Linked DNA regions of Homo sapiens. The protein of the gene in region 1 interacts with the protein of each later gene in a pairwise test. Each region holds a gene or a part of one and is shown on either strand. Other genes may lie near its edges.

What was found.
Region 2: the proteins of SDHD (region 1) and SLC13A1 interact in a protein complementation assay, tested with the Homo sapiens proteins (one large-scale study listed by BioGRID).

Annotation. Positions count from the first base shown.
Region 1 is NC_000011.10:112,093,084-112,096,623, forward strand, and holds the end of SDHD (succinate dehydrogenase [ubiquinone] cytochrome b small subunit, mitochondrial isoform a precursor), read left to right. Parts: coding exon of another isoform or gene 1-114; exon of another isoform or gene 115-126; intron 127-1,721; coding exon 1,722-1,887; 3' UTR 1,888-2,711; downstream 2,712-3,540. UniProt on the Homo sapiens protein: Membrane-anchoring subunit of succinate dehydrogenase (SDH) that is involved in complex II of the mitochondrial electron transport chain and is responsible for transferring electrons from succinate to ubiquinone (coenzyme Q).
Region 2 is NC_000007.14:123,172,351-123,176,179, reverse strand, and holds part of SLC13A1 (solute carrier family 13 member 1), read left to right. Parts: intron 1-3,829. UniProt on the Homo sapiens protein: Sodium:sulfate symporter that mediates sulfate reabsorption in the kidney and small intestine. Can also mediate the transport of selenate and thiosulfate.

The DNA.
Region 1 (3,540 bases):
GAGTGCAATGGTGCGATCTTGGCTCGGCACGATCTCGGCTCAGCACGATCTCAGCTTACTGCAACCTCCGCCTTTCGGGTTCAAGCGATTCTCCTGCCTCAGCCTCCCAAGTAGCTGGCATTACAGGCATGTGCCACCACGCCTGGCTAATTTTGTATTTTTTGTAGAGATGGGGTTTCTCCTTGTTGGTCAGGCTGGTCTTGAACTCCCAACATCAGGTGATCCGCCCACTTCACCCACCCAAAGTGCTGGGATTACAGGTGTGAGCCACCACGCCCAGTGGTGTATGGGTTCTTTTATATGAAATGTCTAGAACAGGCAAAGCCATAGAGACAGAAAGTAAATTTGTAGTTGGGTAGTGGGCTAAGAGGTAGAGGGTTTCTTTTTGGGGTAATGAGAATGTTCTGGAATTAAATGATGATTGCACAACTCAATATACTAAAAACCAGTGGATTATATACTAAAAAGCGTGAATTTTTTCTGGCGTTTGACTTACATTGCAATAAAACTGTTATAAAAATAGTAAAATTAGGTCACTCCTAATCTCAGGCACTCCCTGCTTAAAATGTATCAGTGGTTTCCTATTATATTTCATATAAAATTCAGATTCCTTATCATGACCTTCAAGACCCTATGCAACCGACCCCTGCCTTCCTCTGATCTCTGCTTCACCCATGTGCTCCAGCCACACAAATCTTACTATTCATTAGAGATGCCACTTTGGTTTGGATGTTCTCATTCATGTCTTCCTTTCTAAAGTGTTTCTTCTCAGTACATATATATTTACTTTTTCCTTCTCATTCACTAGTATATTCCATAAGGGTAGGGATGCTGTCTCACTTACTATACTCCCAACATTTATGACAGATTCTGGCACATGATATCTACTTAATAAATTCTTTTTGAATTAATTAAAAATACTGTAGAGTTTTAGTTATTTTTAGTTATTGGGGTGAAAGGATCACTTGCAGCCAAGAGTTCAAGACCAGCCTGGGCATCATGGTGAGACCGCATCTTTAAAGAAATAAAAAACAGGCCAGGCGCAGTAGCTCACGCCTGTAGTCCCAACACTTTGGGAGGCTGAGGTGGGCGGATCACAAGGTCAGGAGTTCGAGACCAGCCTGGCCAATATGGTGAAACCCTGTCTCTACTAAAAATACAAAAATTAGCTGGGTGTGGTGGTGGGCGCCTGTAGTCCCAGCTACTTGGGAGGCTGGGGCAGGAGAATCACTTGAACCCGGGAGGCGGAGGTTGTAGTGAGCCGAGATCGTGCCACTGCACTCCAGCCTGGGCAAAAGAGCGAGACTCTGTCTCAATAAATAAATAAATAAATAAATAAATAGAAGGAAATAAAAAACAATTAGCCGGGCATGGAGGCATGCTCCTATAGTCCCAGCTACTTGGGAGGCTGAGGCAGGAGGATCACTTGAGCTCAGGAGTTCGAGGCTGTAGTGAGCTATGATCAGGCCACTGCACTCCAGCGTGGGCAACAGAGTAAGACTTTGTCTCTAAAGAAAAGTCACTAGAAATAGACTTACTGACATACACACGCAAAAGGCTATACAGAATCCCCTAAAGAAGCAAACAGTGACAGTGGAGTGGCAAATGGAGACATTGCATTTGAACTTGACAGATTGTTTTTTTGCAGCCAAGTTATCTGTATAGTCTTCTAATTTCACTGTGGTTTTTTATTGATGTTATGATTTTTTCTTTTTCTTTAGGGGCCTTGGACAAGTTGTTACTGACTATGTTCATGGGGATGCCTTGCAGAAAGCTGCCAAGGCAGGGCTTTTGGCACTTTCAGCTTTAACCTTTGCTGGGCTTTGCTATTTCAACTATCACGATGTGGGCATCTGCAAAGCTGTTGCCATGCTGTGGAAGCTCTGACCTTTTTGACTTCATACTTTGAAGAATTGATGTATGCCTCTTTGCCTCTGCTTTGTCATGCCATTAAGCTCACAATAAGGAAGAAATAACAGATAAGTCCATTGGTGGACAGCCTTCTTCTCTTAATCACAAGATTATTTTCAGAATTTAATCTTTGAGGAAAAGGTTTGAGAGGAATTATATCTAAGTTGTGAGACTGAGTTCTATATTCTGGTGAGTTAATGGGGTTGCCTCCCAGCTTCTTATAAGACTCACAGTATAACTAAACATGATATATCAGCTTTTGCCTTTCAATTTATCAATCTCTTAAAGAGAATCCAACTTTATTACGATTAGTATATGATCAAACTTCCATATTTGCCTTGGGAATAATGGACAAAGGGAAATACTCTTAATTCATGAATAAAAACTTTGCAGAAAATTAGACAGTGTTTAATTTTCGAAAACTTCCCTCTCTAGACAGTAGATACCACCTACTGATGGTTACATATACTAGGGAAATTTTAAAATTAGGAAATGCTGATAGCTCATATTATAAATTTCTAAATCCTAGGAAGAAACGCTTGGAGTGCTTCTGAATATACAGAAGTTCCATTTAAGGGCAAGTTTCCCTGTAGATGTATCAAAATACTACCAACTGTAAATTGAGATTTAATTCCCAAATGTATTCTACTTGTTCTAAAACAATCTGTCCACAAATATAAAACTATAAGTAATAAATTGTTATTTTCGCACAATGGGAATCTCTAATGTGAAAATGTATTCTATGAAAATAATTTTTTTAAATAAAATGTTATATAATAAAAGTGTCTTCTATGCTTTTATATATTAGCTATCAGTAGTTTTATTCATTAGAATTAGGTGTCCATTGCATCCACAGCATGAAAACAAAATTGGGTTTTTTTTTTTTTTTGAGACGGAGTCGCACTCTGTCACCCAGGTTGGAGTGCAGTGGCGTGATCTCGGAGCACTGCAAGCTCCGCCTCCCAGGTTCATGTCATTCTCCTGCCTCAGCCCCCCGAGTAACTGGGATTACAGGCACCCACCACCACGCCCAGCTAATATTTTGTATTTTCAGTGGACATGGGGTTTCACCGTGTTAGCAAGGATGGTCTCGAACTGCTGACCTCGTGATCCACCCATCTTGGCCTCCCAGAGTGCTGGGATTACAGGCATGAGCCACCCCGCCCAGCCAAAATTGAGTGTTTAAATTTTCTTCTGGGGCTTAGCAGTTAGGTAAATCAGACACAAAGTACTGGAAAACAAAAAGGACTTGTAATAGGCAGAAAAATACCAAGTGTATAAGTAATTTGGTATAAACAGAGTATAAGGTTTAGTATTTAGGAATAAGAACTATGTCCAGATTATGGTGTTCTGTGAATACCAGCCTTTGGAATTCATATTATGTTCTATGTGTATTTAGTCTGGTCTAAGAGTTGAGTGTAAGGCATGATGCTGTCTTCTATCAATATAGAGTAACTGGGACTAAGCACATTTTACTCACCAAGGACCTTACTGGGAAGCTGAGGCAAAGGAAGAGTATGTGTTTATGAATGTGTACTAGGGGTTAAAGACATGCTCTCCTTGATGTGCCTGTGGTCTTGTAGAGACTCAAGTGTGCATTAGGGTTTAGGAAGAGGTGATTAATTCTGT
Region 2 (3,829 bases), on another chromosome or scaffold:
AACTAATTTTATTTGGACTGCAGGCTGTAGTTTGTTTGCATGGTCTATTGAGAAAACTGGCAAACTGTGGGCCTGAAGGCCAAATCAGCCTGCTGCCTAATTTTTAAAATAAACTTTTTAGTAGGACAAATCCATAGTCATTCATTGACATATTGCCTTTGGCTATTTTGTGCCATGACAGAGTTGAATAATTACAATGAAGACCATATGGCCAAAAAAGTCTAGAATATTTACTGCTTGGCCCTCTACAATATGCTAACTCCTCATATAACCCAAATCAGTAACAGCAAGAATGTCTCATAGTCCTGGACTTCTTTCTGTGTCTAATCACTTACTAATAATGGCTTGCTTCTAAGTGTTTATTTGTATTTTTAAGTAATTCTGCATTTATTCTTTTATTTAATTCTCAGAGTATTGGTAAAATAGGGTATCTTAGCCCATTCAGATTACTACAACAAAATACATTAAGCTGGGTAAATAAACAACAGATATTTATTGCTCACAGTTCTGGAGGCTGTGAAGTCCAAGATCAAGGCACTGGCAGATTGAGTGTATGGTAAGGGCTTGCTGTCTGCTCCATAGATGGCATCTTGCTGCTGCATCCTCACATGATGGAAGGGGCAAGGGAGCTCTCTCAGGCCCCTTTTATAAAAGTACTAATTCCATTCAAGAGGTTGGAGTGAACATATTTGGTTCCTTTTAGGTGCCAACATATGAATTTGGGTGGGGGACACCAACGTTTAGACCACAGCAGTCAATAGGGCTTATTTCCATGAGCCAAACTGCAAAAGAGATAAGGGAAAATGAAAACTTAAATCTTTATTCATTTTTCAATAATAAACTCAAGGATCAGCTCCTGTAAGAAGACTTTCCCAATCCCTCTAGGAAAAAAAATTATCACCCCACTTACTTTTAAAATCTCAATTATATTTTGGAGAGGTATCATTCAAGCATCTATAATACTTTATTGCACTTTTTGTTAACTTGTTTTTTCTCATCTAATAGCTTGTAAGCTCTTTAAGTCTAGGGACTTATTAAATTTAACATCCATTGAGTGCCAGTTTGTGCCAGGCATGTGCTAAGTCCATAAATACAATGATCAATAAGATACATCTTGCCTTCAAGATAAATCTAGTGTAATAAAGGGGATAAATAAGTGAAGAAATTATCAATATATAAATTAAGATGTACTATAAAAAGGGAGATATTATCTAATCCAGTTTAGTGTCCTAGGGAAGATATCTTAGAAGAACTGACATCTTCCATGAAGGAAGACTAGAAGTATCCAAGACAAGCAGAGAGGGTCATTCCAGGTTAAATTGCAAGCAAGTGTTAAAGCACTTCTGTGTTTGGGGAACTAAATACATAGGAAGAAGAAGGGTGGAGTGGCAAAAAACTAAATTGGAGAAGTGAAATGGGACCAGATGATGAAGGGTCTTTTATGACATGTTGAAAATATTGGATTTGGTCTTTAAAACTATGGGAAGTTCTTAAAAACTATACTGAAGAAGTATAAGAAGGACAATTATGTGATCAGATTTACACTGTAGAAAAGGGGCTATGACAATGGTATGGAGTGGATCAGAAAAAGATCGATCATACAGTAGCCAAGTGAGAAATAGTGAGGAACTTAATCAAGGTAGTCATGTGTAAACAGAGAAAAAGGGACAAATTTTAAAGATATGAAGGACCTAGGAATAATAGGACTTATATTGGAAGTGAAAAAGGAATCATGGCTGACCTTTAGGTCTCTGTCTTGGGCAACTGAGTAGATAGATGTTTACATTAACTACAAAGGGAGAATGTGTTTGAAGGATGGGGAGTGAGAAAATGAGAAGTGTCATTGTGGATATGTTGAATTGTAGGTGTTTGTGGGAAATTCAAATGGAAATGAACAGTTGGACATATCAGTCTGAAACTCAGAAGACTTATCTGTGTGGAAATAAAGATCTTGGTGTAGTCTACATTCATTTAACAAAGGTTCATTGAGTGCCCCCATGTATGTGCCAGGCATTATTTTAGTCCCATAAAGTTGAATCTTTCAAATTCAGTCATTGGATGGATAAAACAAGGAGACTATAAAGACTATGGACAGAACCCTGTGGAATACCAGCATTTTGGAGGACCGAGATAACTGGATTTTCAAAGTTAGAAAAAAAAGAAAAATTCACAGGCAGGTATAGAACCAGGGAGAAAAAAAAAAAAAAAACAGCTTCCCGACTCTGGAAGCACTGGCAAATTAATATACTGAAATACTTATACCTAGAGTAAGAGTTGAAAGAGGTGGGAGACTAGGAAGTAGAGGACAGAGTGTAGAAAATTGGGATATAAGAGCTCAGAGACCATAGCTTATTCATTGTCCCTCTCTCCCTCATTCTTTCAATTCTATTTACCAAGCTCTCTACTGTGTACCAGCACTATGCTAGGTGCAAAATACGTGATGGTTAGCAAAATAGAGTCCTGGTTTGGCTAGCAAAACAGATTCCTGGTCCTCATCAGAATGTATGGTATAATAGAGAAAACAATAAGCACGTAAACAAACAGTATTTACGTAATGTATATACTACGAAAAAACCAAACACGGCTCTATGATACAGAAAAATATAGGACCTATTTAGAAAGGCCTGATATTTGAGAATTGAAGAGGTGCAAAGAGGGAAAAATTTATCAAGCATTTATTAATATATACTCTGCTCCTATAATATTTTTGGTGCATATGGATAATTTTTCAATGAGTAATAAATGAAATAGCAAGGAAATTGATATAATTATTTTCTATTATCCAATCACTACAAAATGTAAAGAGATAGATATAAACTTTGAAAGACATCATAAATGAACATTTTATAAAATATAAAAGTTGTCCACTTGCCTACTTTTAATTTCAAGGGTAATTATCAATTTTTGCTTTTTATCGAAACGAAGCCAAGCTTAGCAAATTATGTTAAAAATGCAGATATAATTTAATATAGCAAAATTATCATAAGAATTGATTTTCCTTTTTGTGGTTTTGTAACATTAGAATGGTTTTATTCCAACATTCCCATTCCTTCTATTAGCTATTGTTTGATTTTTTTAGAGGGGCATTTACTCTTATAATCCTCTTTCAGCACAGCCTTGTGTTTCAGTTTAGCCAAGTGCTTCTTAAAGTAAGTTATCTTGAATACCACTCTCATGAAGTGCTCCACCTAAAAATTAAATAAAAATAAGTTTTTAATAATTAAGTAAATCTGAAAAATATGTAGTATATGATATCCCCCTCTTTAAAAATGACATTATACACTATTGTTTAAAGGTTTTTGCAAAGGCCTATAGGAGAGAAAGTTCTAGTATGTCAAAATTCTGTTTTCTCAACCTAATCAATTACACAACCCTTTTAAAAAAAAAGATTATGTACCTAAATGTATTTCAAAGTATTCTTTAAGAAATACTGCTGCAAATGGTTGCTTAAAGTTCTAGGTCCTTTACTAATCTCTGAATGGTGTTGACTGAAAATTGCTTAAAATATTAAGTCTCATTTGAGGGTATTTGTTTTACAATTTTATTATTATTATTTTTTAAGATGAAGTCTCACTCTGTCGCCCAGGCTAGAGTGCAATGGCACGATCTCGGCTCACTGCAACTCCGCCTCCTGGGTTCAAGCAATTCTTCTGTCTCAGCCTCCAGAGTAGCTGGGATTGCAGTCATGCACCATTACACCTGGCTAGTATTTTGTATTTTTGGTAGAGATAGGGTTTCACTATGTTGGCCAGGATGGCCTCGAACTCCTGACCTCAAGTGATCCACCTGCTTTGGCCTCCCAAAATGCTGGGATTACAGGTATCAGCCA